2 separate regions of the Homo sapiens genome follow, and region 1 is linked to region 2. The links come from fine-mapping of genetic effects on gene expression. A gene starts in region 2. The other region holds a variant in brackets. All regions are shown on one strand. Distances are from middle to middle.

The links.
Region 1: its variant is fine-mapped to the expression of OXR1 in whole blood (TOPMed, PIP above 0.99).

What each region holds. Positions count from the first base shown.
Region 1 is chr8:106,713,432-106,729,320 of GRCh38, forward strand. OXR1 (oxidation resistance 1) reads left to right here. Exons shown (of 17, transcript NM_001198533.2): 11 at 392-554. Among named protein-coding and RNA genes, the nearest start is that of ABRA, 49 kb to the right of the region's middle. The variant G/A (reference allele first, on the strand shown) is at 7,284.
Region 2 is chr8:106,263,475-106,279,363 of GRCh38, forward strand. It overlaps OXR1 (oxidation resistance 1), which reads left to right and starts at 6,716. Exons shown (of 17, transcript NM_001198533.2): 1 at 6,716-6,893. RefSeq lists silencers at 6,441-6,690, 6,711-7,070.

The DNA.
Region 1 (15,889 bases), 450 kb after region 2:
TCTCAAAATAGGCCATTAATAAATTGTTTACTTGTATTTTAGATCATTAGATTATTGTAGGAATGAGGTCAAAGTTGTGTATCTAATTTCCTTTTCCATCACTAGTGTCTTTAAAGAAGAAAAGCTTTATAATATACAACATCTGAACTAGTCAAACACATGCCAAGGAAAATCTTAATTTGGTTTTCTAAAGAACAACCTGACAGAATATAGCCAAATAAAATGTTTAAGTTAATGCCTTCCTGATAGTAGACCTTTTATATTAATATAAAACAATATATTTTGTGTATATTTTAAGTCTTCAAGATTTATCAAGATATTTTACAAATATAATTTTTTAATTCTGGCAGCACAGAATACTAGGTATATTAATAGTCACTTCTCCTAACAGGACAGATCACTTGTATGCCTTCTTCATTCAGTGGAGTCCAGAAATATATGCAGAAGATACTGGCGAATATACCAGAGAACCTGGATTTATAGTAGTAAAAAAGATTGAGGAGTCTGAAACAATTGAGGATTCTAGTAATCAAGCAGCAGCCAGAGAATGGGAGGTAAGGAGAAAAATATGAAGATTTTAGTCATCTTTTTAGTTTGTATGAATTTATAGCTTTATGGTAGTACAAAGTATAAGTGATGTTTCCACAAAAGAGGAATTTTTTTAAAGGTCAGGTTCACTATCCGTGTTTATTTGTGGTTATTGAATGAATCTGAATAGTGACTTTAATACTATATTTGTCATTCTGCTTTTGCTTTAAAATACTAGAAAACCCACTAGCAATAAAATGACTTTTATTGAGTGTCTTATAGAATATTTAGTTTAGGAAAGATTAACATTATGGCAAAGAAGGAAATAATTTTAATTTTGCTGTTATATTAATTTTCATAAAACATCGATTTCACATCTGATTTGTTTTAATTTCATCTCCTCCATGGAGGAGGTACGGCAGTCATTTAACACATCTGTGCATAGTATTTGCATAGCATCTATACAAATTACTACTCCTTTCTATGTTTCAGACCTAAGCATTATCTTGACTTAAATTTTTCAATAATAATTTTAAGGAAATAAGCAGGTGCTAATTTTATAAAGTAGTAGAAATTTTATATGCTCAGATTTACTGAACTTGTTTAAATGGTCAAAGTTATACTAACAAACTTTTTGTAACTCCTCTTAGATATATCTTAAGATTACATATTACCTTTTACATGCTTTGTCTTATAAGGTTGGTAGGGTGGCAATATCTGTTGGTGTTGCCTAGATTAGTCTCTTCTTGATGCATTAGAAAATGTAGAGCAGATGCTAAAATGTTATAATAAATGTAATCAAATTTTTTTATTCATTGGGTGTTAATGTTTGTGGCTGTTAATGTGATATGAATGTATCTTGCATGCACTTAACATGTATAGTAATTGAAGGTATACATGGCTTGTCTTTTGTTTAAAATGCAAACTGATTTGGAATGTGTCTAATGTCATTCTGTGTAGTATATACAGCATCAGTTTCTACTGTGACTCCAATATAAGGGAGGGAAAGAAGAACATATCGACCATGTATTTTGGGTTATTTTAATACTTAAACCAACATTATCAATCTTCATACCAGCTTTATTCATAATGGCCCCAAATTGGAAAGTCTCATTAGCAGGAGAATGGATGAATACATTTTTGAATACTTACAGAATTCCAAATAACAATAAAAAAGATCTACTGGTACAGGCAATGACATGGATGAATTTTACAAATAATATGTTGAGTAAAAGAAGCCTGACACAAATGAACATATACTATGTAATTTCATTTACACGAAGTTCAAAAGGGCAAAACTAGTCAGAAATCCATCACACTACTTGATACTGGGCTGTGACAGGGTGGCTCAGGGACAGGAGGGAACTTTATTGCGTTCTGGGGATGTTCTATATGTTACTCTCAGTGGTGGTTACTTGGGTGATTACATATGTAAAATATATATAATATATATAATACGTATATAATATATATATGTATCTTATATATATATATATTATATACATCTATGTCCCTGAGCTGTGTTTTTAAGATTAGCTTTAGAAGGTACTTAAAATAGCCCAGGTGATCAAAGATACGTACCTAACTAAGGCAGCAACAGTTGAAGGTAGAGTGGAAGGTGATGAAATAAAGCTAGAAGAAAAGGTATTAGCTAGCTAATTACACAGGATTCAGTGACAACCTGGTAACCATAAAGTTATCTCCAGCTTGGGTGGCACGGTGGATGGCAGAATTGTCAGTCATGAACGGGAATTGAGAGCTTTCTCTCCATTGGGGTTGGAGTACTTAACTTTGGAAATAAGAGACTATTGACTATTTTGATTCAAAGGAACTGTCTCAGTTTCTGTGCAAGACTCTGCAGGGTATAATTTCTAAAGGAAAAATAAATCTCCTCACCAGTCCTTTGACCGGAATTGGTGCAGTTCAAAAGAAAATGGAAGAGAAAAAAATAATTTTGGAAACTCCTTGCTACATTGTCTGAAAATATTACCGCAGTATCCAGTATAGCAGCACTAGCCATATGTGGCTATTGAGTACTTGAAATTCATGTAATGCCACTAAGGGACTGCATTTTTAGTTTTAATTATTAATTAAAAACCGATACTTGGTTCCATTATTGGACAATTTTTAAATATATTAGGAATAACTTAGATATATGATCTACTTTTTCAACTGTAAATTTCATGAAATCTAAATATGATCTAAATCAGTCTAAATCTAATTAAGGTCAAGTATTTCCTATGAAAATTTAGTGCCTGAATTGAGATGTGCTGTAGTGTAAAATATTCTACTTCCTATAGCCACTAGCCACATGTAACCATTGAGCATTTAAAATGTGGCCAATCTCAATTGAAATGAGCTGTAGTATAAAATACACACTGGAGGCCGGGCGCGGTGGCTCACGCCTGTAATCCCAGCACTTTGGGAGGCCGAGGCGGGTGGATCATGAGGTCAGGAGATCGAGACCATCCTGGCTAACAAGGTGAAACCCCGTCTCTACTAAAAATACAAAAAATTAGCCGGGCGCGGTGGTGGGTGCCTGTAGTCCCAGCTACTCGGGAGGCTGAGGCAGGAGAATGGCGTGAACCCGGGAAGCGGAGCTTGCAGTGAGCCGAGATTGCGCCACTGCAGTCCGCAGTCCGGCCTGGGCGACAGAGCGAGACTCCGTCTCAAAAAAAAAAAAAAAAAAAAAAAAAAAAAAATACACACTGGATTTTAATGACTTAGAATGGAAAGAAAAAAGAATGTAAACATCTTGTTTGTTTATACTGATTAATATTGAAGTGATAATATTTTGAATACATTAGGTTAAATAAACTATATTAATACAATTAATTTCACTTTTTTAATGTGGTGTCTAGAAAATTTACAATTGTAATGTATCTTACATTATATTGCTCTTGTGCAGTGCAGGTCTATGCCTCATGGATACTAAGTGCCTAAAAAAATGTTTGTTAAACTAGGGAGGCCGAGGGTAACAAATAAAAAATGTTAAACTAGGGTGGATCACGAGGTCAGGAGTTTGAGACCAGCCTGGCCAATATGGTAAAACCCTGTCTCTACTAAAAATACAAAAATTAGCTGGACGTGGTAGCACACGCCTGTAGTCCCAGTTGCTCGGGAGGCTGAGGCAGGAGAATCACTTGAACCTGGGAGGCGGAGATTGCAGTGAGCCAAGATCACACCACTGCACTCCAGCCTGGGCAACAGAGTGAGACTCCATCTCAAAAAAAATAAATAAATAAAATAAAAATGTTTGTTAAACTAATGAGTACTCATTTAAGTGAAAGAGTAATTTTAAATGTTAACATGATTTATTTTAAAACAGGAAGAATTTGGCTAAAGCCCTTATATAAAACAGTAGTACTTCAGAATGTGCCGTGATGTTTTTTATTTTTTTGTTCTACAAAGGAATGGAGAATAGGTGTCCTAGAATTTAGGATGAACTTGTTATGGCTACCAACTTGGGCATCAGTTAGATTTAAACTAACACCTCTACTCACTGTTATTCTGCTTTAGTGATACTTAAAAAAGATCTTTATTATCCCTGACTGTTACTCAAGCAGAAATATATTGCTAGCCAGAAATGTATACATTGACTGGGGAAGTTTGTATATGATAAATTTGGTAAACTTATTGTTTGCTTTTTTCTCCCTTTCCCTATGTAAGTGTCATAAGGCAGGGATTTGTCAATTTCATACACTATTATATCTTCAGAACTAAGAATTGTATAGGCATATAGTTCATTCTCAATATTTATTAATGGATAAACTTGGGCGTAGATTAAAATTAAGGTATAAAGCTTCTAATCTTTCAAGATTGCTCTATTTCCTGAAATAAGTTCTTACATCAGTTGTAGTAAATATTTTCATAAAGCCATAGATTCTGGACATTTTAACTAATAGTCCACAGTCTGTCATTTACATTTTTTTTTGTTCTGTTTAAACATATTCAGTGAAAGGGAATTTGTTACCTCAAAGGGCAATACTTTACATTTTAGGACAGCTCTGTTAGAAAGTTATTTGTTACAATAAGCTTAAGGAAACATATCTTTGTAAATTGGATTCATTTATCTTTATTCTGTCTTCCAATGCAAGTCAATAACAACAAGAAACATTTTCTATTTACTGCGATAGTGTGAAAATGTTTGTCTTCCCTTTTAATCTTGTTTCAGAATTATTTTTTCCAGTACTTCAACTGTTTAACTTTATGAACTCTATTCAGATCTTATTCATATCAGTACCCTAAAATATGTTAAAAGAGTTCATAAACTATGGCACCCCAAATTACTAAAATGTACACTTGGGATAGCAGGAAAAATTCCGTAATATTTTTAAAAATTTTAATTTCCAAATATGAACATTGAAGACCAGTCCTATTGAAGACAGACAGAAACATATATTTACTAAGAAAAAGAAAATTTAGCCAAATTTTAAGGTGGTCAGGAGTAAAAGTTCCTAATGATAAATCAGTTCCTAAGTATTTGGATAAAGGATCTGAGAAATACTATTCTTACTGCTCACGATGTGTAAAGGACTGAATTTCCTCTTTTTGTAGTGTTACTTTGTATGCCACATGATAAAGAGTACTTTGGTGTGGGTCGGGCGTGGTGGCTCACGCCTGTAATCCCAGCACTTTGGGAGGCCGAGACAGGTGGATCACGAGGTCAGGAGATCGAGACCATCCTGGCTAACATGGTGAAACCCCGTCTCTACTAAAAATACAAAAAATTAGCCGGGCGTGGTGGCGGGCGCTTCTTGTTGTAGCTACTCGGGAGGCTGAGGCAGGAGAATGGCGTGAACCTGGGAGGTGGAGCGTGCAGTGAGCCAAGATCATGCCACTGCACTGCAGCCTGGGCGACAGAGCGAGACTCCACCTCAAAAAAAAAAAAAAGGAGCTATGCCTGAATTAATTGCGTCAACATGGCTGCTATTGATAAGAAAGCATGTTTTTAAACAATCAAGGCACAAAATGATTAAGGAAACCTTTCTTCATAGTGAACCAAACTTATGTTTTTGGTGTGATACCCAAATAAAAGAAATATGCATTATGAGTCTTGCTTTTGGGGATCTGATAACCTTATTTGATAACTGAGAAGGAACTACTTATTACAGTCTTTCCCCTGATTTCTGCCGGTATTCAACACAGGAAGTCAATAAGTATATCCAGTGTTGTGAGGATACTGTTTGATGTGGGGCTTTGCAGTTCTGTGATAAATATTACTTTCTGTTTTTTGATACAGATTTTTTATGCCTTTTCACTGAAAAGGGAAGTGCTCTAATGGCATTTTAACAAATTGTCAGGCAAGTCCTGAGGTGAAGATGAGGCAGAATGCCTATTGACATCTGCTATTTCGTGATGATCGCACTTTTGTTCAATAAATATACAAAAATAAAAGATTAATAGTAAAACAAATTCACATGTGCCATTCAGCTTCATCAGCTTATTTCTTCTGTGTCCCTCCTTTTCTCCAATTGTTCATAGTTATTCAAATGTCATAAAAATATTTAGAATACATGTAATATGTACAGTATGTATTTTTACAATTTGTTTTTTGAGTCATGATCCAACTAAGTTCTCAAATGCTGCAGTTAGTTAAAATATCTCTTAAGTCTCTCTAAATGTAGGTTCCTCCTCCATTGCTTTGCTTTGCTTTTTTATTTCAGTTTTTAAGAAATCAGATTTTTTTTCTGTAGAATGTCACACAGTCTGGAATATGCTGTTTGCATCCCCATAGTGTCTGTTAACATGTTATTCTACCACTTGAATGATTGATAGATCTAGAGCAATACACTTAAGTATAGATTATCATCTTTATTTTACAGATAATTTCTTTGTATTTTTTTATTTATTTTATTTTTTTTGAGATGGAGTCTCCGTCTGTCGCTCAGGCTGGAGTGCAGTGGCGTCATCTTGGCTCACTGCAAGCTCCGCCTCCTGGATTCACGCCATTCTCCTGCCTCAGCTTCCCGAGCAGCTGGGACTACAGGCGCCCGCCACCACGCCCGGCTAATTTTTTTGTATTTTTAGTAGAGACGGAGTTTCATCGTGTTAGCTAGGATGGTCTCAATCTCCTGCCCTCATGATCCGCCTGCCTTGGCCTCCCAAAGTGCTGGGATTACAGGCGTGAGCCACCGTGTCTGGCCCAGATAATTTCTTTAAGCTGGTTTTTTATTTGGCTAAAATTCTCTTAGTGGTTAATCTCTAATTCAGAGCCTATACCTTTTCCACCATACCAAGTACTCAACTTTGGCGGAACCTTTGCATCATGATGGGGAGCTTTCAAACATATCATTGCCAAGGTCACAAATCAGACCAATTAAATCAGAATAATTGGGGCTAGGACCTAGTTATCAGTGTTGTTTAAAGCTACCTAGGTAGTTACATTGTGCAGTCAAGGTGCGAAAACTAGTATACCACCATGCCACAACTTCAGGTGTTGTGTTAAACATATACAATATTAAGACTGTGGAAGACTCTTTAGACTATATTGATTATAATATAGATCAGCTTTTGAGTTCCTGTCATGCAAGTTATATGAAATACTTTTCATATTCCTTTCATCTGGGCTGCTGCATCAAAAACATAAATTTGGTTCACTATGGAAAAAGGTTTGTTTAATCATTTTGTGCCTTGATTTTTAAGAAAACATATTTTCTCCTCAGTAACAGCCATGCAGATACAATTGATGTTGTCATAGCTCCCTTACATACCACAGGACTTCCATCATGTTGTGTACTCAGAGATACTACAAG[G/A]AGAGGAAGATCAAAAAACATACCAGGCTGTAAGTCAATGATCTTTGAACTTTGTCTTCTTCAACTTTGTCCATCAAATACCCTTTAAAATTTAATATATTTGGCAAGTGCCTGAGGATCCAGTAGTATAGCTTAAAGGAGTGACCACCACAATAAGCTCAGATTCATGTAAAACTTTTCATTCAGCTTTATAATTTATTTGTTGTAATATAAAGATGAATTTGGAATTTCTTATCATGAAGTCAAAATGGTAATACTGTAAGTTGAATCGCTTTTATCCTGCCATCATTTATCATGAGACATTACATGCTGGACAATATCAGCATCCACCCCAAGTACCAACTTCAAGAGGCTGTATACTAGAATTTTCTGAAAGTCAAGGATTCATTGTGTCACATGTTCAGTATGCCAGTCTTGCTGCTTGACCACACAGGCCTCAAAGGTGGAGCTTTTTATGCTAACATTGCTTTTTGGTTCCTTTCCTTTGGATTGACTTTTCCAGTCCTTTTGGGATAAAAGCTGGCAGAGAAAGCTTTCCAAAATTTTTCATCTCTAATTTTATACCACATGTACTTCAGTATCTTTCATACTACAAACCTAATTAAAGTATCCAGTTCTCCTAGGATGATAAATAAAAACAGCTAAGAAACTGGTTTTATTAAATCAACTTTACTTGATTTATTTAGTCTCCCACACATTTACTTGATTAAATTTTAAGAACGAATTTACTAAGATTATGTGTTGATAGGGTGTGTAACAGTATTTTTCATTCTTAAAATGATTCGTATTTGAATAAAATTGCTCTGGCTTCCCTCTTGCTTCTCACCTTTGCCAAAATACTGATAAAAAGACATTCTGTACAGTTTTGGGGTTTTGAAACAACCTGTATCTTTTTAGGTACATGACATTAGTCACATTTTCTCAATAATTGAAGTTTAGATTATTTAAGTATAAATGTAAATATGTTAACTACTTACTATATAAACCTCTATACTATTATTCAAAATATGTTAGAATCTGCCTTTCAGCTTAGTTTTTAAAATAATTTATAGTCTTTCCATTTTGACTTTAGTATTTAGTGCTGTCCCTTTTAGTTATATAAGTGTAAAATATGTAACCCGTTCTTAGCATTGTAGGCCATAACATTTATCACATTATGTCATTGTTGGATTTGGTTTTTCACTACTATGTGGTGATTGCCTTGTGGAGCCAGTTCTGTTTTCACAGCTATCATTAAGTAGAGTTATGGTCAGGATCATTCATTAGGTTTCCCAGAAAACTTCTACAACCGTGGTTATTGCTGCAACTTTTAAGAAACACCTTATCAGGAGACTTCCCTTGTTTGGTTAATATCTTATTTCCTAAGCTGACAGGCAGTGAGTATTCTGGTGATCATTTTATTAAACATATGTTTTCTATTATTATTAAGGTACAAGTAACACCAAAATTAAAACTGAGTTAATATGTTAAACGCACAAAACCCTCATGATCTCTTCTCAGTCTAGCCAGCAAAATCCACATAGAATTAATTTTGTCCAAAAGTGAAGGAATTCTTTGTGTATAAAGTCACTACATTGAGAAATCACATTTCTCAGATAAAGGGAATTTTTTTAAGTATTCTTTTTTTTTAATACTGATCGAATAATCAAATAATATTACAAATTATAACTCCAGAAGAAATTTAATAAATCTAAAAAAGAAATCAGAAGGATTAAACACTTAATTAGAATTTATTAGTTGATAGGTACTGACTTTCATAATACGGTCATGCAGCACATAATGACATTTTGGTTGGTCCCCTGAGATTATAATGGAGCTGTCTCTTAGTGATGTCATAACATCATAGTACAATGCATTACCCTCTCTATGTTTAGATATATTTTGATACACAAATCCTTATCACTGTGTTACAGTCACCTATAGTATTCAGTACAGTAACGTGCTATATGGTATGACCTAGAAGTAATAGGCCATACCGTATAACCTGGTTATATGGTAGGCTATTCCATTTAGGTTTGTGTAAGTACACACTGTGATGTTCACAAAACGAAATTGCTTAAAGATGCATTTCTCAGAACATATCCCTGTCATTATGTGATATATGACTATATTTCTATGTTGAGAACCTGTATAGTTACAAATGAAACTTTTAGACTGTTTATGTTTTCTTTTATTAGCATTTGGCACCCAGGTTTTATGCCTAATATGGTCTGTTTTGACTACTGATTATGTTATCTTAAAGTTGTTATCGACCTTAGGAGAGTTTTGAACTAGTGTTTTGCTTTCCCTGTTAAAAATATTCTTCAATTGCTAGCCCAAAGTTATGAGCTATAACATTTCCATTAAAAATCTTTATCTAGGCCAGGCGTGGTGGCTCACACCTGTAATCCCAGCATTTTGGGAGGTCAAGGCAAGCAGATTACCTGAGGTCAGGAGTTCGAGACCAGCCTGGCCAATATGGTGAAATCCCATCTCTATTAAAAATACAAAAATTAGGCCAGGTGCGGTGGCTCATGCGTGTAATCCCAGCACTTTGGGAGGCCGAGGCAGGTGGATCATGAGGTCAGGAGATCGAGACCATCCTCGCTAACACGGTGAAACCCCGTCTCTACTAAAAATATAAAATAAAATACAATAGCCAGGTGTGGTGGTGGATGCCTGTAGTCCCAGCTACTCAGGAGGCTGAGGCAGGAGAATGGCATGAACCCAGGAGGCGAACCTTGCAGTGAGCCGAGATCGTGCCACTGCACTCCAGCCTGGGCGACAGAGCAAGCCTCTGTCTCAAAAAAAAAAAAAAAAATACAAAAATTAGCCGGGCGTGGTGGCGCACACCTGTGATCCCAGCTACTCAGGACTCTGAGGCAGGATAATCACTTGAACCCAGGAGGCGGAGGTTACAGTGAGCAGAGATCATGTCATTGTACTCCAGCCTGGGCAACAGAGCAATACTCCATCTCAAAACAAAAAACAAACAAACAAAAAACCTCTAATATAGACTGTCAGAAGAGGATTTATGGGTGACAGACTAGTTTATGATTTTAAATATTAAAATTCTAAAATATTACTTTATTTTTAAATTTATTATTATTTTTTGAGAAAGGGTCTTGCTGTGTTGCCCAGGCTGGAATGCAATGGCACACTCACAGCTCACTGCATCCTCGAACTCCTGGGCTCAAGAGGTCCTCCTGCCTCATCCTCCTCAGTAGATGGGACTACAGGTATGTGCCACCTCATCCAGCTAATTTTTTTTTTTTAGAGATAGAGTCTTGCTGTGTTGCCCACGCTGGTCTCAATCTTCTAGGCTCAAGTAATCCTCCTGCCTCAGCCTCCCAAAGCACTGGGATTACAGCCACCTCACCTGGCATAAAATAATAAATAGTGAGTAGGGTAAATTATATATTATAGCTTCTATCATACCATTCCCAACTCAAATAGGAAGAGATATAAGGTAATTTAATAACTTCAGTTCGAATAAAGTAAAGGAAAAGGATTATTAAATTGAATATCTGAATTATGAGAACAGATTATGTTCAACTTGTAAACTGGTAGTGTTTTCAAAAGTGCTTTGTTTTATATCCCATCATGTTATAATAATAACAATTGACATCTGCTTCAAATTCTTGGATATCTAGGCAAATTTAAATGACTTAGCAATATGTATTATAAATACTACAAAAACAGAAAGGGCAAGAAGGAGACTTACTGAGCTCATTTTATGTTTGCCTGACACTGTATTTATAAATTTGGATGACTTCGAGAAACAGAAAACCACACTCAGAATAGCTTAAACCTGTTGTTTCTCGAAGTGTAGTTCCCAGACCATCAGCAGCAGCAGCACCTGGGAATTTGTTAGAAATGCAAATTCTCAGACCCCATTTGAGTCTGATTAATTAGAAACCATTTTTGGAGCCCAGCATTCTGGTATAACAAATACTCCAGGTGATATTGATGCCGGCTAAAACTTGAAAGCCACTGATTTAGGTCTCTAATGACTAGTTCTGTCCAGAGATGAGAGCCAGCCTCCTCAGAAACACATGGCTGGAAGGATACCTGAGCAAAATCAAGGCCACTTCAGGAAGGAGTTGTAAGGGTGGATATTGAATAGGCAACCAACAGAATAGACTATGCCATGCTTGGTGGTTTTTGGTTTTGTTTTTAATATCTCATTTAAACCTCATTTTGGAACACACGTCATATTTGTTATTTTAGAAAATGTAGCTGGAAGTTATGACAAGCTTTCAAAATGCTGCTTCCACCACCACCACCACCAAATTATATAATATTGCTGATGGTTGTTAGGAGAGTCTGTGATGGAGGGGTGGAGTGTGACCACAATGCACTGTATGTAGAAGAGAACTTTCCTGGTGTGAAGATAATGATGGTGTTCCTATGAGGGACTGTGGGAGAGATTTTAGGGTAAATGTAGTGGGGCTGAATGAGAGGAATAGGGGAAATGGTTGGTATGTGGGGGAGGTAGGGTGTTACTGTGGGGTGTGCTGTGCCCTGTGTGAGTGCATGCTGGAATGTGGAGGAAGGAGATGGGAGTGGGGGTTTGGTTGGGATGCAGTATTGCGTGTTAGAAAGGTAGTGTGTGTGTGAAAAGGTGGCATCATGTGTGCATACAACAAAGTGAAGTGGAAGGAGCTGCTTTACCTTAAAATGGAAGAAATTTTCAAATGTATCATCATGATATTGATATTCTGATTAAAACTGAATTCTAGATAGTTTTAGTTTATATGTATTTGTAGTTTATATTTAATCTTTAAAAAATTCACTTCTTTGCTTATATTCAAAATATCACTGGTTAGTGAAGTATATGTAGGCATAGTGAATATAACTACCTTTTCAAGAAATTAGATGTTAGAAAATGCAATTTAAAAACAGACTGTGTAACAGGCAGAGGGATTTTCAGGTCACTTTGAATATTTGTGTAGGATTTATTTGTAGCATATTGGCTTGGTTTTTACACAGTCATTCTGTAAAATTTTAGGGTGGAAGAGTCCACAAAAGGCATCTTATTGCTTAAAAAATGTTCACATAAAAGATACAATCTTATAGTACTGTTAGCTGTAAGTAAGGAACATAATTTTATGACTATATGAACAAATAACAAAATGTTCATTCAAATCATTCATGTGCTTTAAGAGACTCTGGAAATTATATTTACTACTTTTTTGTTACTGGGTTACTTTTAGTATATTCATGTACTGATGTTTGGAAATATAGGCTCTGTGTCTTTAAACTTTTGAGCCCTTTCTTTGCACATTTGGGTACAGTGCAACCAAACTTAAGCATGGGAAATTCTCTCTTCCCTCCCCAGCTTTACAGCCTCCACTCAGGACTATCATTGCTATGGATACTACTTAGTGATTAGCTCTCTCTCTTGTCAATCAAATCTTTGTCTCTAGCAAACTGTTTTGTCACTGTAGTAAGGCTCTAGTGCTGGAAATTTATCTTTGACAGAGGAAGAATGCTTTTGAAAACAGTTCTTACGTGATTTTATGTAACTTAATTTGCCCTGGAAAGGAAATGTCTCGTCTCTGGTATGGGAAAAAAGGGAGAAGACATCAACCAATTAATCATAAATACACTCTGGTAAATCTTAGTCAATTATTTTAATTTGTATATATACTAGTCTTTTCATGGTGACATTATGAAAAATTATACAATTTCTGAAAGTTTAAGCATAGAGGATATTTATAGAATACAAAATTTTATGATTGTACAAAGTACCTTGAAGTTGTTTCTGTTAATTCTGAGTATCTTCAAAAAGGGAAATTAATAAGGGACTGTAATTTTGTTTCATATTAAGTGTTTTGTATGTTCTACACCAACAGGAAGATATCAAATCTTAATTGTTGCCTTAATGTTTTTTATTTTAGCTTAACTTTTTAGAAAAATATTCAGAATTTTCTCTTGCTTGAAAATAAATTGAATAGAACAGAGTAAATTAATTATTATTGACTGGATCTCAAACCAGATTCTTTTATGATATTGTTTACTTAAGGGTATAATTTTAAGAATCTGACTAAAAGGTTTTTTAAGCTGTTCAAAAAGTTTTCAGGCAATGCTACCTAATACAAATCTTCAAACGATATCCTAGTAAGGAAATTCAGTCAACCATACTATTGTAAGAATTTTATTTATTTTTCTGTACGTGTACATTGTTATAAAATGTATTGTCCATTGCTCTTTCTGTGGTAATTTGGGATTATATTTTGCTTATGAATGTTTATTTTATTTTCACTTAATTGTAGATGATTTAAAATCCAATAAGGACTTTGGAAGATGCCCCCAAAGCAGCTTGCCGCCCTTAAATGTTAAGTGTGTCAAAATATTAAAATTTTAATAGGTGTTATTTTTAATTGTAATTTCAAAATTCATTTATATGTTACATCAGCACAGAGGGATTTAGGCACCTGAAATGATTGAATTTTTAAAATTTGTGATTAGATTTACCAGATAAATCAGTTAACACCGTTGTTTTTTTTTTAAACCAAGAACAATGAAGCTATTCATACATTTTTTTTATTTGAAGTTTGAATAATCATTTATTCTTAGTTTGCAAAGACTTCAATACAGTTTATTACAAATACAAGCAAAATAAATTGTGGTTATTCTGAAATTTATAGGTCAATCTAATTAATGTGCATCAAACACTTACATTTATTACAGTCACCACGTCCAAGGCCTGTTCATTCTTTATTTTTATTTTTATTTTTGAGACAGGGTCTCACTTTGTCACCCAGGTTGGAATGCAGTGGCGGGATTTTGGCTCACTTCAACCTGGGCTCCTGGGCTCAAGTGATCTTCCTGCCTCAGCCCGGCAAGTAGCTGGGACTGCAAGCATGCACCACCACAGCCCGCTAATTTTTTTGTATTTTTTATAGAGACTAGGTTTCGCCTTGTTGCCCAGGCTGGACTTGAACTCCTGAGCTCAGCTCAGGAGATCTACCTGCCTTGGCCTCCCATAGTGTTAGGATTCCAGGCCACTGCGCCCAGCCAAGTTCTGTTCATTCTTATGGGAGGCTATATAATTTTGTCAGATACTTTATTTCATGCCTGAGCAAGAATGCTTCCTACTCATTGGTCATTAGCTCTGCCCATACATATATGTTATTTAATTGAACCCTCACAGTAACCCTGAAAGTTTAGTAGAATTATTTCCCATTTTGAAGACTAGTTGAAGCATGGAGTGGTCACTGAACTAAGTTGTCATGTAGTACAGAGACAGCTTGACCCTAGCACATATTGTAGTTCACCAGGATGACTTTGAAGTTTTTCTGAAATAGAACAATATGATGTGTTTTGTTGTGTAGACAAGCTGAAGTCCCAGTTTTCTAGTTGTTTTCTTTGTTTTAAAGCAGAGATTCTAGGAGCTGTAGGGCAGGCAGCTCTTAAGAAAATTGGGATGAAAAGGATTAGCAGTTCTTTTACCTGCTTTGTAGATTGAGAGCCCTGTAAGATTTTGCCTGACAAGGGGCTCTTATGCTTCTAAACTGGAAAAAAAAAAAAAAAAAAAAAAAATTCTAAGAGAATAACCAGTATTTCAGAACAAATGAAATTTGACTTTTTGGAGTTTATAATGTGTAGCTTTTTAGAATTCTTCGTCTTTACCCAACAAATAATATGGCCATATTATTACTACCTCTGTAAGAGAGATTATCACTGAGGTATCTATAGATACCTTGACAGTTTTCCAAATGCCTATGTATGTAGTATCACATGACCTTACAGTAACCCTGTGTGTTAACCAGATTGTTTTGTTTTATAAGTGAGTTAATTTACATCTCAAATACATTAATAACTAATAAGCAGCATACACTCCTAACAAAATGCATGGCATGAAATTAACCTTTTGCCAGTTAGCTTCGATGAGAACCATATTGATCAAGCATGCTTAAGTTTTGTTATCTTTTATTTTTTAAAGGCCGTTTTATAGTTTATTCTGATAACTTAAACTTTAATCATTCATTTATTTGAAGCTATTCATGTATTTGATATATTCATGTGCCATACTCTACCTTGTTAGTGTCTGTCAATAAGTCGTAATTTACTTGAAATTATAAGCCCATTTTATAATAAGGATTTAGTCTTAATCAAAGTCACAAGTCATTAAATAGCATCAGTGTTTCATTGCCTTTATCAGTAGTCACTAATTTCATCACCATTTTCTTAGTTTAGGCCGTCATATATGAACAGACTTTTTTTAAATTTAGGCTTTCATATATGAAAACACAGGAGAAAAGTTTGTATGTCGAATTGTTTACATCTGTTCAAGAATTAGCTGACAGGTGGATTTTTAGGAAGAGCTAATTTAAATGTAAAAATCTTTCCAGTGACTTCAGCCTGAGATAATAACTATAATGATAAAAATAATTACTTGTACTGACAGTGTATACCAAATATTGTTCTAAACACTTAATATGAGTTACCTTATTTAATTCTCACAACCCTGTGGAATATTACTTTATCATCTCCATTTTACAAGTGAAAAAACAGGGACATAGCAATCATACTACAACTAGTGCAAGTCAGAGCTGATTTTTTAATCTAGGCATTCTGGCTCTAGCTGATGCCCTTAAACTCTTTGCCATACTTGCCCT
Region 2 (15,889 bases):
TATATACCACTAGGGTATATGGCTAATAACAGGTGTACAATAAATGATAATGAATTAAAAAGTGGAATTGGTAGAGGCTCTGCCTCATTGTCTTCAGTTGTTTTCCTAATAGTATGTTATTGTGTATTAAAGGAATGAAACACAAATGCCATGTTACCTGGTTTCATTGGTATCTTATTAAACTAATGAGGTGCAGGGCTAAGAAAAGTTATTTTAAAAATATATCTAGCTTCTTTCTAGCTACTTGAACTGAAATGTCAACTTAAAATTTCTAAAATGGAGTGTTATAACTTATCTTGTATATTACATGTCAAATAGCCTACGTCTTGGTCCTCGACTATCCTAATTTCACAGAATTCTATCTAATTTGGTGTCTCTAGATGTGTATAGTGTCTTGATGACTTTATTAGATTAATAAATTCTTAGGTCAAATTTTTCATGGTTTCAATTCTACTTTTGTTCTTGCAGTTTTGTCTACATAATCAGCATTTGTTTTACATGACAGTGTGGTCAATATCGAGGAAAGCCTGAAAAGAACGACAGTTAAACTAAGAACCTGTGTTGGAATCCTGGGTCTTATAATTTACTACGGTTAAGAAAATTACCACATTTTGTCAAATCTACAACATTGCTGACAAATCACCAAGAAAGAAAAGATACATCCCAATTTCATGAAGGTTAACATGTGGATTATCTTAGATTGATGAAATACAGTACACTTAGTTCTTTGACCTTCAGCTTTTTCATCTATGTTACTTACCAGCTGCAGTCCTGCCTGCTTCACAGCTATATTCTTCCATCCCTCTTGTCCACTCTCATTCCCTGGGAATGGCTGGAATACCAAGTCTGGACCCCAGGGGACATTTTCCTGCTGGATGCACTTGCCTGCTATTCAGTTAATCTGTCTTGGATGGGCACCTAACCCAAGCTTCTTGGATCATGTTTTTCCCCAGGGATTTCTTTTTCTCTGTATTTTTAAAATATACATTTTTAAATTTTAGAATAGTTTTATGTTTTTAGAAAAGTTGTAATAATAATACAGAGAGTTCCTGTAATCCTTCACCCAATTTGCCCCATGGTTAACATCTTACATTTGTCAAAACATTAACATTGGTTAATTACTATTAACATTAACATTGTTACATTACTATTAATTGAACTCCATATTTCACCAATTGTTTTCATTAATGCCCTCTTTCTGTTCCAGGATACAATTCAAGATACCACAGTGGATTTAGCTGTTGTGTCTTTTTGGTCTCTTTTGTTGTATAATAGTTGCTTAGTTTTTGTTTTTTATGACTTTGACAGTTTTAAGGAGTACTGGTCAGGTATTTTGTAGAATGTCTCTCAATTTGGGTTTATCTGATATTTTCTCATGATTCAACTGGAGTTGTAGGTTTTTGGAAAGAAATCCACAGAGATGAGGTGCCTTTGTCATTACATAATATTAGACAGTAAATGATAGTCACATGACATCACTGGTGATGTTAAGCCTTCATCACTTGGTTAAGATAGTTTCGGCCAGCCTTTTCCACTGTAAAGTTGCTATTCTTCCTTTTCTATATTCTTTGGAAGCAAGCCACCGAGTTCTTTGGAAACTTCTAAACCAAAGCCAATTGAACAGATCCTGTCCTTATTTAATGAAGGGATCCAAGGACTATACAGGCTGTGGAAAAAGCCTGTCTGCAAGGTGGGAAAATAAACCTGCTGATGAGATATGGACAGAATTGTGATGGCATTTCCACCTCCTGAGGCTCAGAGAAGCTCCCTGTCTTATATTTCACTCTACTATTGTGCCAGAAAATTTCCCTTTTCACCTTCACCAGTCTAGGTTGAATTTCTATATGTCCAACCAAAAATAGGCTAAAATACTATATACCTCATTGGATTGCTATGAGAATTAAATAAGTAGTATGCAAAGGAGTGCCTACCACAGAAAGAGACACATAGAAGTACCAATAAATGTTGAATATTATTATTAATATTAGTTGATGCACAGTAGTATTTTGAATCCGTTATAATAAAAACATTGTGGAAATAAACTAATGGTCATAGATTTCTTAGTTATATTTGAGAATCTGAGATCACACATTAAACATACTTGTTATTGTAGCATTGGACTCAAAGAGAAGTGAAACGAGTTGTAGCTTTATCAGGATCTTGCTGCTTCTGCAAGAACTAAGCCACGTTTGTGTTAGATTCAGAGGCAAGAAAAGAGCATCCTGATATTTGAAGTACATAATTATCCACATTCTTCTTTCCTGAGGAAAGGGCCATCAGAGCTAAGTCTTTTAGTCAAGAAGCATCTTTGATTCACAAATACTGTGTGATCCTTAATGTCCCATGACTATTATCTAGAATTGTTTCAGCCTGAAAGTGCAGAGAGAGGGTAGAAATGTGCATTTATATCTTTAGTATATATCATTAATGAATCTGTTGTGACATTTATCTATAGTCATGAAATGAAAAAATAATTGGGGCATAAGTGACTTTGAACTACTACTATTTAGTTCTCCAAATTTAATTTTTTTCACAACGGGAAAATAGCTATCAAGAAGACAAACTTTTAATAGCCCTTTAATGAAACTGTCTTGGTATTTCCTTTTCCCTTAAAAAACTCATTTACAAATTGTTTCACATTTCTACCTTGGTTCTGATTTTCTAAAAGCAAATTTGGTATGAAAGAAGTGCAACAGAAAGACAGGCTAGTGTCCAAGTATCTAAAATGGTTTGCCTCTGTGCAATGGAAGGAGAATATGCTCAGTGGTCAGTGCCAATACCTGGAAGTATACCAGATGCTTGGCAGTGTAGCATAGATCTCAGTGAAGGAATTCAAAGTAAGACAAAGTAAAGGAGAAAAGAACGGACTATACAGAGGTATCCCTACACAAAATGGTGAAAGAAGTAGTGTATATTGCATGTCAGCCTACCTCCAGCATCAGCTCTCTCCATGTTTCCTTGACTCCCTGAAAGCAGATGACTTAGTGCCCACCTCATGCATTCCCCGTTTCAGACTTAAATATTCACTTCCTGTCCTATAATCCCTCAATGCATCAGCAAGCACCTATTTGAGCACTGACGAAGATAAAATACACACAAATATAAATTTGCCATTGCCCCAATCCTCCAGAAACTTGCCGTTTAGTGGGGGAGGAGAAGCAAGTATGTAGATAACTAAAACAAAAAGGCAGTGTGGTGTAGAGAGGGACAAAGAACTACAGAGATGAGAACTAGGAGAAGAAAAGAAGAATAATCTGAGGTGTAGGTTAAGATGTGGTATGTGGGAGGCTGAGACAGGAGAATTATTGGAATCCTGGAGGCAGAGGTTGCAGTGAGCTGAGATAGTGCCACTGCACTTCAGCCTGGGCAACAGAGTGAGACTCCGTTTCAGAGAAAAAAAAAAAAATATGTTTGCTGTGGTGTGACAGAGCTAAGGGAGGAGTTCCTAGAAGACAATGTACAAAGTCATGAGAAGAAGTTCAAGGAAAAGATCCTGGATTTGATAAGTTTAACGTAACTATAGAATGCAGTTTAAATGAGATGACTCATGGATTGCATTGATTTATTCCTAGAATAACAAATATTAAAGGAGGTAACAAACAAATTGCATAAGATAAGTAAAGGGAAAAAAGACAGCCAATTATTCAAATAATTCTAGCATAAGAAATAATACAAAACTATAAGGACAGCAGCATTTCCCCCATCTGTTCATGTTTTGAGGCACAATGGGAAAACCCCCACTTTTTATTATCAAATGGTTTACATAATGATCAAGTACATTAGATCAAAACAAAAAAAATGGGCTTTAATAATATGGAAAACATCCTTTTCCTGCAGAGACAGATTGGGGACTGAAAGCGTCAGTTGGCTGGGTGGCTCATTAGCTGTCTTTAATGAGTGGCACCACCTTGGAAATAACCAGGGCCCTGAAATAAAGATGAAAAGGCAACAAAGAGGGGACTCTCTGTTACCCTTAGGCAGGCAAATCAAAGCAACTGAGCCTAAAAAGAGATGGGAAAAGTTCACTTCAAAGCATTATTATTATCTTGCTCATTTCTGAATAACTGAAACCAACGGACCTCCCAACACACTTGCTGTCCTTTTTTTGTCCATGGGGAAACAGGCCAGTCTATGAGTTTACTGGTTATCCATTATTTCCATCTTGCAAACATCCCCTATTCCTTCTTTTGCTAACCAAATACTTTTTTCCCTTTTGAGAATCTTTCATCCCCAAGAGGATGCAGGTGGTTGATTGTGTGAGCCAGGACAGCCAATAAGAGTACACCTTCAAAGATTGATCTGCTCAACAGAACAAGAGACTTGATTTCTTTGTAAGGTTACAAAATTTGTCAACTGTGTAGGGCTGGCACTATGGACATAATGTGAGGGGAATGAAACCAACACAGGAAGCAATGCCGAAAGCAAGTTAGAGAAAGAGAAAATCATATTCTTCCTAATGTTGTTAAGCCCAGGACAAGCCCTGCTATTTCTAGTACTTCTGAGTTACACGGGTCAATGCATTTTCTCTGCCTAAGTTAGAATTGCATCCCTGTCACTTGTTACTTCGAGTCCTCAATGCAGTACGTTTTTGAGCTACACTTTTCCATAGGACACCAAAGAGACTTTGAAATCAAGATTTTCCCTGTTTCATGATTATGGGTAGTGTGCATGCTGTAGCATGAAGATGTTCAGAGTGCCATACCACCTTAAGAATAATTACTGAAAGAGGAAGAATGAAAGCAACCAGGATGAAAGTAAAGTTTATTTTTCACCTTCCTTCACCACTGATAGAAAGGAATGATTTGTGTTGATAGTCTAAGGAAATTCACATTTTGATCTCCCAATGAATCACCTATGGAAAATTAGAAACATGATGTTGTCATTATAAAGTGGCCCTGGTCCTGCAGATAATATTTGCAGCTTCAGTAAAAAAGTAAAAGATCAAACCTTAATTGATTACTTATTTTGGGGTGCACATGGCACTAAATTGCAAGTGGGGATGGAAGGGCGCAAATATCTTAGGAGGGAGGACATCTTGACCCAAATAGACAGATTCCACTACAGTTCTATGAAAAAATCACATGTACATTACTTAGTAGGGTTAGCAAAGTCTAACTAATTTATAATACTGGGAAAACAAAGTAGCTTTATCACAGAGTCTGAACTGAGATAATTATAAAATACATACCTAGTCTATACATTGCTTGTAGAAGATTCTCAGTAAAATCTTTCTGATAGAATAAAAATTAAACGCTATCAGTTTCAACATAACAGAAAATTTAAGCTGCGAATGCTCGTAAAGAAATTAGGTAAAAATAATGGAGAACAAAACCCGCAATCGGCTTATCAATCGGCTTACTGTTGACACGCCACGCCACTCAGAATAGTATCTAATTTTCTTGATCCCTTATCTCAGGTAAAGCTATTGACTCGGGGAAATAGGTTATGCGGAAACCATGAAAGTTTCTAGTCTGGCCGACCCTAGGTTCAACACTCTATTATTCCAGACAAGCGATGAGCTCCTGTCGCTAAATTTCAACATCCCTGTCTGTCAAATGGGAATAATAATGATTCTCTCATTGGGTGGCTGTGAGAGGTGAGTGAAACAAGACGGAAATTTGACCCAGGAAATATCTGTACCTCTTACTTTAAAGAACAGAATTAAAAAATAATAATAAATGATCAGAAATTAAGGTAGAATAGAGTGAACACTAATAGCGGGAAATAGCTAATTTGCAGGTGAGGTGGCTGAAAGGCTCCTACGCTTGAAGTGTTTGCTGGATGCACAGGAGATCTGGGATACATCCCGAACTCGGCAACAGGACCAGCTCCTTTCCTCAGGGTTACAGAACAGCCAGGTTCCAGTTCAGGTCTGGGAATCTACCCATCCAGAGTTTGCGCCCTTTTCGTTTTGCAATTTAAAACCGGGTTGGAGGGGGAAGGAGTGAAGGCAGCATGCGGAGAAAGTAAATTACAGTTCAGGTGACAGGAACAAGAAAATCTCCAAGGTCAGGGTGGGGTGTCAACGAATTATGCAAAACACTGCGGAATGAGGAGTCACAAACGCCTTGCAAAGAATTCTGAATTTTAGAAGCTCTTTGCAGAACCCCCTTCAGCCCGCTCCAAGCTGCCTTGGGTCCCTTTCTAGGCTGTCAGACTTCGCCTTCCTTTCCTCCTTGTTTTTCCCAGCAACCAAAGCATCTGAAGAACATTTTTTTCCTCCGTAAATCTGAACAAATTTCCTTGCAGCTTTCCTTGCAGAAGCTTTTTTATCGCTTTAACAAAACTTTCCTCTGCTTCTCTAGGGAGAGCCTAGTATTAGAGCTGCCCGACAGGCGGGACCCCGAAATCGGGGCAGCTCTGGCTTAGTCCAGGCTATTCGAGTGGGCGCCTGAACTGGAGGCGCCGTCTCCACCGGGATGGGGATCCTAGTGCAGGCAGACGCCTGGCAGGACTCGGCGAGCTGGGGTCCCCACCGCGGTAGCCAGAGCAGAAACCCGAACCCCAGCCAGAGGGGCCGCGCGCGGGGAGGGGTGCGCGCTAAGCCAGCGTGGCTTCCGCAGGAGCTATTTTTAGCGGTGCGTGCCTCCCCCCGCCCCCGGCGTGGTAGCCTCCGGCTCGCGGCGCCCCACGGCTCCTCTCAGTCTCCCCCGCCGCTGCCGGCTCTTGGTAGCTTCCACGCGGGCAGGTCCGGAAACTGAGCATGTCTGCAAGCGCTCAGCGGCGCCGGCAGCAGCGGGGCTAGAGCTGGGCTGCGTCAGGCTGAGCCCATTCACCTCGCGGCCACAGGAGCTCAGCGCCGGCGCCGCGCCGCCCAGCCCCGCCGAGAGGGGCGCACTCGCCGCCGCGGGGCCCGCCGCCGCTCACCGCAGCCCCCTCCTGGCGACCCGCAAGTAAGTTTGTGAGGCTGCTGGGCGTTAGGGCGAGGGCTTGGCGCCCGGGGGAGTCCAGGAGGGATAGCGAGAGGCGCGGCTGGCGCCCGGGAGAGCCGGCTGGCCTCTGCCCCCTGTGCCTGGCGCCTCTCCGAGCCACTTAGCCAATTTGAAAGCGGGTGGCCATTGGGATGCTCGAGCGGGGACGACGGGCAGAGCAGGAGGGCAGAACTAGCTCCAGCGGGGGCCCAGAGGGCGGACTTGGGAAGAAGGAAAGACCGCGCGGCGAGGGAGGAGACCGGGCGGCGAGGGAGGAGACCGGGCGGGGAGGCTGGGTTTGGGGCGCGGGAGCCCGGCCAGGGACAGCCGCAGAAGGAAAGTGGGGGTGTCGCCGGGGGATAGAGTGGGAGCAGCGTGAGAGCAGTGTTGGGGGCGCAGAGTGGAGGGCAAGCGTGTCTTGAACAGAACGGCAGGAGGATGGGTGGAAAGTGGGGCGCGTGGAAAGCGGATTTGGACGAGAGCAAAGGACGCCGGTGGAAGGGACAGTGGGCTCCGGAGGGGCGAGTGGATTCGGATAATTTGGGGAATCAGTAAAAGGCTAGGGGGCACATCATGATGGAGTCAGCCTGGAATCTGTCTCCCGCTAGAGTACCCGAGGCCACATGTTGGGAACTGGCTGGGGAAAGGATGGATGTAGAAAGTGGCCTGGAGGGCCGACTGGAAAATCGCTGAGGGATTTGGGTGAAGAGGGGGGGAGCTGTGCAGTATCGGGCGGAGGAACTGGGCTGCTGGTAGGGCCTGAAAGGTTCAGGAGAGGGTTGGAGGCTTCCCCGTGCCGCCCCTTGAATAGTGATTTAGTACTGTTATCTGAGGTTCACTTTCACCCCTGGCTCCTCCTCCGTCTACTACCCGGCTTGGACGCACCTCGGCTCGCTGTAGGCGAGCTTTAGGAGATTTAAATAGACATTAGGCAGTGGGGAAGGTAGTCGTTTACGGGGGGAGCTGCTCGGGCTTCCGTTCAGTGGTTCCCGGCACGCTCAGGGTGCAGTGTAGGGTCTGAATGTGTGTATTGCGGGGGTAGGGGGAGTGGTGTCAGTTCTAGGCCACAGGAATTCGTGGTCTGGCCCCAGAGGTGCGGTGTTTTTGGCCGGGAAGTCAGGCAGAAGTCTGCAGCGTGCAACTCGCAGCGGGGCGTGTGTGTGCGTGTGTGCGCGCGCGTGTGCATGTTTCCGGCCCGGGGTCGCGTGTGTGGCTGCAGCCTGTCTCCGTGACAAGAAGATCCAGGGATCTACGGGCGGCACGGGGAAGGGATTAAGGGGAACATACTTCCCTACGTCTTTTCTGCCTCCTTTTCCCAGGGTAGCATTCTTTGCTTATCCAATGATGCCTCTTTCTAACCTCTCCCTCTCCACTTACATCCCAAACCTGATGCGGGTCTTCTCTGATTCGGCACTCTAAGGAGGACTCAGCCGCCGGCTGCGACCACCGTGGACTCCCTCTATGGAAGGGAATCCTGGGAGTCCCGGCCGTCAGAGGGGTTCCCAAATCCAAAGGGTCCATCTCCAAGGCGTCACTCCAGGGGTCCGCGGTTCACTTTGCTGCCCCTTGCAGGTGATGCTGTGATTGTTGCCTGCGGACTGGGAAGCACGATGGCTCCAAAAGGCCAGCGGGGCCGAGAAGCAGGGACAGAGACCAGCATTTAAGGGATCTCTGGTGGGGGCCTCCCTGGAGTTCTCCACATGTAAATATAGCGAAAAAAGAAAACACTACGTTACTAGAATAAACACGTCCTAAAATTTCTGTGCAAAAACACCTTTTTGAACAGCAAAGATTTCACCCACCAAAACAAGGAAGCAAGAAGCTTCCACAGTGTGCAGGATCCGAAACAGGACCGGCCCGGCGTTGGGTGAGAGTGGGGGAGGGGTTGTCGGCTTCTCCATCCAGCTTGCCATGTTCTGTCGTCGGTTTCACATTTTCAGAGAGACTTTACCAGATGCAGGAAATGAGGATGAAGGCAACTCTGGAAGGATGCAAAGAAGGGAGAGCAAGCACTGTACCTACTGTCTGCTGTCTAAGAGGGCTGGTCTCATAACTAAAAGGTCCAGTCCCTGAGATCTTGTGTGCAACCGTCAGAAATAGTTCAGGACATCAAATTGCACAGAGAAGATTCAGATGAAGGGAAACAAGAACTCTGTGGAAAACTGTTGGGGACAGTGGCACGAGTTGTCTTGCAAGGTGATGTCTGTCCCGTGGAGGGACACAAGAGCGAGGACAGCATGGTTCTAATGGCCAGGGCATGTCTTCTTATTCCATGTGACAGTGGCTGGCTGAGTTGCTAGTACGTTTTTGAAATATACCCTTTGAAATATGTTGATTATTCTGGACATCTGTAAGGTGGGAGATTTGAATAAAAAGACTTCTGCTGTCATTATTGGCTTTTATGGCTATGATTTTTTTCAGTCATTATTATAAATCATGTGAAGGTAAAATAAATGATCATTTTAGCCATTCTGTTCTGCACAGAATGCTGTTCAAATAAAACATCATCTGATATGTTTGCCTGTATTGTTTTGTTTGGGGGTCACGGAAGAGGGAAAGTCGGCCAAATTGATTAGGGTATCATATAAAAGCAGAGATTAGGTCCGGGTAGATCTTTTGAGTGTGTGCAGGAAAAGGCTTCATTATAGAATGCTAAATTTAATGTGAGATGAGAGAATCTTTTACTCCCGATCTCCTGCATTTGAAATACAAAGGATTGTACCCTTGGGCTGGTTCCTGGTCCTTAAGTGGAAGCCTAACTGGACACTTTTTTTCTGGAGGATTGTTCCCTAAATCCTGGGAAGCTTTAGAAAATAGTCAATGGAATTTTTGTTGCCCTAAGATAAAGTCATTACAAAGAAAAAAAAAAAAGAAGAAGAAGAAGAAAGTAAAGGTGGTGAAATGGCTTGAGGAGGCAGAATGAGAAATAGAGATGTCAGTCAAAGTGGAAGAAGAGAAATCACTTTCTCTCACTTTAGGGATAGATCTTGTTGATAGGCTTAGAGCAGTGATTCTCCACTGGGGGCAGTTTTACCCCCTAGGGGATACTGACAATGTCTGGAGACATTTTTGGTTGTCACAACTTTGGGGGAGAGGTGCTGCTGGTGTCTTGTGGGCCAGGCCAGGGATGCTGTGAACATTCTACAATAAACTGGACAGCCTTCTGCAATTATCCAGCCCAAATGTCAGTAATGCTTAATTTGAGAAACTTGGCTTTCAATAAGATGTGCTTAACATTAAAAGCAACCCCTTTTAGGATACTTTCAAATATTCCTATTGGAAGTCCATCTTGAAAATCAAGAGTAGTTAATAAGAGACTTTCTTTGCAAAATGGTCCATATTCAAAAACACTTGTTTTAAGGAAATTAAAGAGGCTTCCTTTTGGCAGAACTGTTTTTCAGCCTTTAAAAAACAAACAAACAAAAAATCTTAAGACATATTGAGAATTTCTAAAAGGTGAATCATATGCATATGTGCATGTGAGCTAAGTAAACATTGTTTGATAAAACCAAATCAGAACTATTCTGCTGTACTAATTTCACTGAACTTGTTTGGTAATTGCTTTTTAAAAGCGATAATCTTAATTTTTAATTCAAATGAATTTAATTAAAATTACAACTTGTAAGTTCTTTATCAAGTGAGGGATTGAACAATCAGAGAAAAATGTTAGACAAATATTTATTTGAAACACCCCAAAATATTCCAAAATGAAATCTTAGTATTTATAGGTATCTACATAGAAAGGTAAGAATGTCGTATAATTTTCTCGTATTGTATTTAATTTCCATTTGAAATCGACAGCATGGAGCGTATTGAGAAGCATCAAGCCTTTCGATTCCGTAGCACAATACGTTGCCTAGAAAGGAGGAACAATACCTTACACTCATAAATGTAATAAGATACTGTTCTAATATCCCCTGCATGCAGGAGCTCAGAGCACTTATTAGGTAAAAGCCTTGTCATTAGCACAATGAAGCCTAGTGAAACTAAAATTTGGTCGTTGTATCTACCCCCTCTTCTGTCTCACCATTCCACCCATTTTTGTTATTGGTTTGTTTCAGAATTCATTCTGAAGGTATCATCATTAGGGTTGCTTACTTCCTTTCTTGTTCTAATAACTATTCCAATCACCCTTACCTATTACTGTCCCTCAGGGATTTGTGTCGCAGCAGACTTGATACTCCTGCTAAGACTCTGGGGCACCCAGCAACGCCACCCCCCCCCCGACCCCGCCCTTTCTCCTGTGCATACAAACACAAACAGCTCTTTTCTGCTTCTAGGTGGAATGGGGATTTGTACCTGTCTTGGAAAAAGGCAGTGGGGAGAGCCTTTGTTTTTCACAAAGGCAACCTCAGTTTCTCTGCTTCTATATTTACTGAATTGGTTTGTTCAATTGCATATTCTTGCTATTAGAGAGGCTTCCTCTTTCCCAAGGGAATAGTGAAAGACCTGAGGAAAAGATGACTTCAGTGTAAGCAACACTGGTACTGATAGAATGCACCTGTCATTGGACTACGTGAAAACCCAATAAATATGGTTTGAACCAGTGATAATCATATTTGTAAATTCAATAAGCATTTGTAAACTCAGCAGTAGCAGGTTCTGTTCTAGACACTGGGACTCTTGCACTTGCAATACCCAGATATATCTCTAAAAGTATCTGTACAAAGAAACATAAGATGGGCATTCATTTTCATTGAATTTGGAGCAATTATAGAGATATTTCCCGATTGTTGAAAAGACTTCAGAACATAATTGGTGAGATGCAGAAGGCAGAAGAAATCATTAAAGGGAAAACAGTTACATGGATTTCTGTACAGCCTAGACAAGGAAGAAATGAGAAATTTGAGGTGAAAGGGGTCAGTTCTTGTCTCCCTTTTCCTTTCCTTAGCAAATGATTATTGATTTTGTTTGACATCTGAGCAAGGAGAGGTGGTTTCCTTCCCTGCAGATACTTGTTGAATGGATGTGTGCCCTTTTGCACTTCTGATAGCCACAGTGGTAGAAGACAATGGGCTGGCTGGCACTGGTAGTTAGAGGAAGCAGAATTTCAAATCAGTTTTGTTCTAATGGTGTTTGCAGCAAAGGCTCTAACCACACACTTTCAAAGACTGAACATTCTGTGTCACTATTTTGGGGGGATTAATATAAAGACTACAGAACTGAGCATTTTTGTTATTTTGGGTACTAGGGAATACCTATGCTTTAAAGTATACTTGTTTGGAGAAACCATATTTATTTGGGGGAAAAGGAAATATTGATAAGATGGCAGCTCCATTTACCTAAAAACAAACTTGCTGCTTACTCTGGCATGTCAATTATTGTGCCAGCTGGAAGGAGGGTCATGTGAGAATTTTATCAAACACCTTATGTTGTTCTTGTTGAATTCAGGAGCAACAACAAACACACACACACACACAGAGCAAGATTTTGAAATTTATGCTGTAGCAAAGGCAAAGAGAATATCTTTTTTTAAAATTTCATTTTATCTTATAATTGTTAAAGATAAGTAATAGCAATGCAGGAAAAAGGCAACCTTGTTTGTGGAAGGTTTTACTTTTGTTTACAAATGCTTATTCATCTTAAGAAAAAAAATAGCCTGGAACATTTCCCCAGGCTTTCAGTCTTCTTTATAAATAGTGTATCTCTTCTATCTCTGGATTATTCATTATGTGATGCCGTTTGGAATCTGAATCCTGGGCTCAGATGGCTGATGTGGTTCCTTCTGATTTTGTCATTCAGAATTGTCTCTATCCTCCTAAAGAAGGTGAAAGAGACATGCTGTTTGTCATTGGGGGCACAGTAATAGGTGCAGGCTGTAGTCTGTTTTACAGAATTACATGCATGTTGCTTGACCTTGGTCTGGGACCCCACTGACCAAAACACTGAACTCAGCCTTCTGGATCATGAAGCCTGGTTTTTGCAATTTTGATTTGAACAACAGTGTTTTGACCAGGTTTGACAATCAACTGATGTGTTTGGAAAAGACTGACTGATGAGCCAGAATACTAACCACCCATTTACAAGGAAAGAGGCACAGACATTTAGGGAAGATCAAGAGCTTTGCAGTCAAATCTGGCACTCCTGCTTAGTAGTTTGTGACTTTAGATGAGCTTAACTTTATGGAACTTTTATTTCTTCATCTTTAAAATGAAGATAATTATGAAGTGATTTGCCTGAGGTCAGTAGTCACTCTGCATCATTTCAGCTTAGTTTACAGTTTTCAAAATCTCCATCCAAACCTCTTTCTCAAGAGCATGCTTATTTTCTTGGTTAAATCCATGTTTCTTCTGTTTATTTAAAAATGCTCAAGAACCGATATTTAGCTCAAGAGCTTCTCCTTTCAGCTGTTAGATTCTGTTAGAGGCAAAAAAAAAAAAAAAAAAAGGTAACTGATGGGTCTCTAATTATGTTCAATTCAGGTATTCACCTAAATTGTCAAAAAGATTAAACGCCTTTTTATTTTTTCCTAATTGGGATGAAAATAAGTAGAGCTTTAGGTAAAGATTTCTAAAACCAAACAAAACCATATGCATAATGTCTTTCAACTAGGATGTATTTTTTGATGATCAGAAAATTGAAGATTGGCCCTTGCTGATAATTCTGTTATTAAGTTTATAGATGTTTTTATACCAGTTTAGTGTTGTTGCCATTATGGTTTATTGAAGCATTTCAGATTCAATAAAAATCTGAAAACCTGTTGTATGTTGTTCATTGTAAAATAAATAATGTATGTATTCTTATTTGTAATTTATGGTGACTGATATGCATATGATCAATTGGAATAATGAAAGAGTTAAAATTGGAAACCAGAACAGATGGAAACTTTGAAAGAACATTCTCTTTAGCACCACCCAAGTTTGTATTCAAATCTCTGTTCCTCAGTTATTAGCTACAAAAAAATTGGGCAAATTACTTTCTACCTTACTACTTTTTAAGAATCATATCCACCGGATTATAGGTTATGATTCCTGTGATGATTCGGTGACATAAGCAAGTAAAGATGCTAGCATGATGTCTGGCACCCTCTTTGTCCTTGTACTCTGCTAATTCCACCACACTTCAGCTGTGCCCTTGCAAGTGATCATTTATGCTTGAATTAGTTCCAACTGTTTTACTCTCAAGAATCATAAAGCCTGATCTCAAGTTTCTTGAGGAAAAAAAAGAGAGACATGATTCATGACTGTGTAAGTGGAGCCGGGAGCTCTATGTGACTCTAAGCAGGACCTGATTCAGGGCTCACACCCATGTGACCAGTTGCACTGCAGTTTCCATTGCAATTTCTTAGCTCCTCTTCCTTAATCTTGGCTATGTCCTTGACAGGCTTACTCTTCAGGGTTCTAAGATGGCTGCCAGAAGCTTTCAGAGCTTCATGTTCCCAGGTTCAAACCTAGTGAAGAGGACAGTCTCTTCCTGTACCTTTTACAGATGAAAGAGGAAGCTGCTGTTCCTAGAAATTCCAGCAAATATCCCTGGTCAGGTCAAGAGCCCTCCACCAGTCATAGTGGCTGGAAAGGTGGAATATACTGGTTGAGGAAGTGTGTTTTCCCATAGAAAATTGAGGGATTGCTGTTTGTATGCTGATTGTATGCTAGCACAATAAGAAGCCACCACAGCATTTATGTTACTGTTTGGCCCCAAAGAAAAATGTTAGAGCCATGGTTTTATTTCATCTGGGTCATGGTTAAAGTCTAGAGGATTCTTTCTGTACCATTACTGAATATGTGTTTCCAATGATTGATCTGAATTTTCAAGATTAATGACAGCAGTGCCCATTAGCTCTCTTCCTTCAATCTACATCATTAGACTGGCTGGGTACACACTAGAATTTATGTTTTGCTACAAACAACTGTTCAAGGAACAAATTAATATATTTTCTTACATTAGATACTAGGTAGTAGAATCACTGTTTTCTGATAAAAGTCAGGAGCTGTCATCATGTAAATTGTTAATCTAACATCCCGTGATTTATTCCTTTGTTCCTGGCTTACCTTACTAACCTCTGGTCCTTCATCTACATACCAAATTACACTTTACAGGAAGGCTACTAAGATTTATGTACAAACAAGTCTTAGTATCTACAAACATGGGCAACTAAAAAAAAAATCCAGAAAGGTTAACTTGTTAAATGTATATTAAAAAAAAAAATTCTACATCATCCATTAGGGCTGTTGAATGCAGTCTCTTAAATGCAGTCATTTTCTAAGATAAAATGTGATCTTACTTTTTTAATTAACATATTAATGGACTAAGGATGCTTTCTCTCATTTATTTTTCACCCTTTGCGTAGATCACAGTGACTGGATGTCATACATCACATATTAAGCAGAAGAATGTTAACAGCCATGATAAATGGCTTTGAGTGAAAAATATTTTCTTCTGTTTTCATTCATCCAATGGTTTAGTCACATAAATAAATGTAAGTGCCTTATTTTAAAATGTCTTAAAATGGGAAAATAAAATCACATATCTTTGCATTTTTAAAGTTAGTAGCTTTCAGGCTACTATAAAATGTAGTCTGCTTGTGGTAAGTATGTCAGTGTAGCAATTGGTTTTTCCATATGTAGTTTCCAACATGGGAGGTGGGGGAGATACTTTAGCACAATGCAGTTCAAAAATTAAAAACCACAGAAATGAACCAGACTTTCATTTTCTGTTATATCTATTTAGGTTCTTAAATTCTTAAGAAGACTAAAGAAGTTGAAAGGTATTCTTTCACACGACTAAAGTATCATTGAAGTGAGATTTTTACCTCTTTGCCAGCATGTTTTTAAATTTCCAATCAGCAGTTACATTGGTGGGTGTATAACAGAGAAAGCATAAAGTCATGTGAATGTTTCAGATACAGTTTTTAATTATCTGAAATATGAAATGAACAACTAAGAAGAAAAAATTACCATTCTGGCATGGTAAAAATATTCTGTAATTTTAAGAAATACCTAGAGAGAAATCATTTTAACATAGCCTTTAAGGCATAG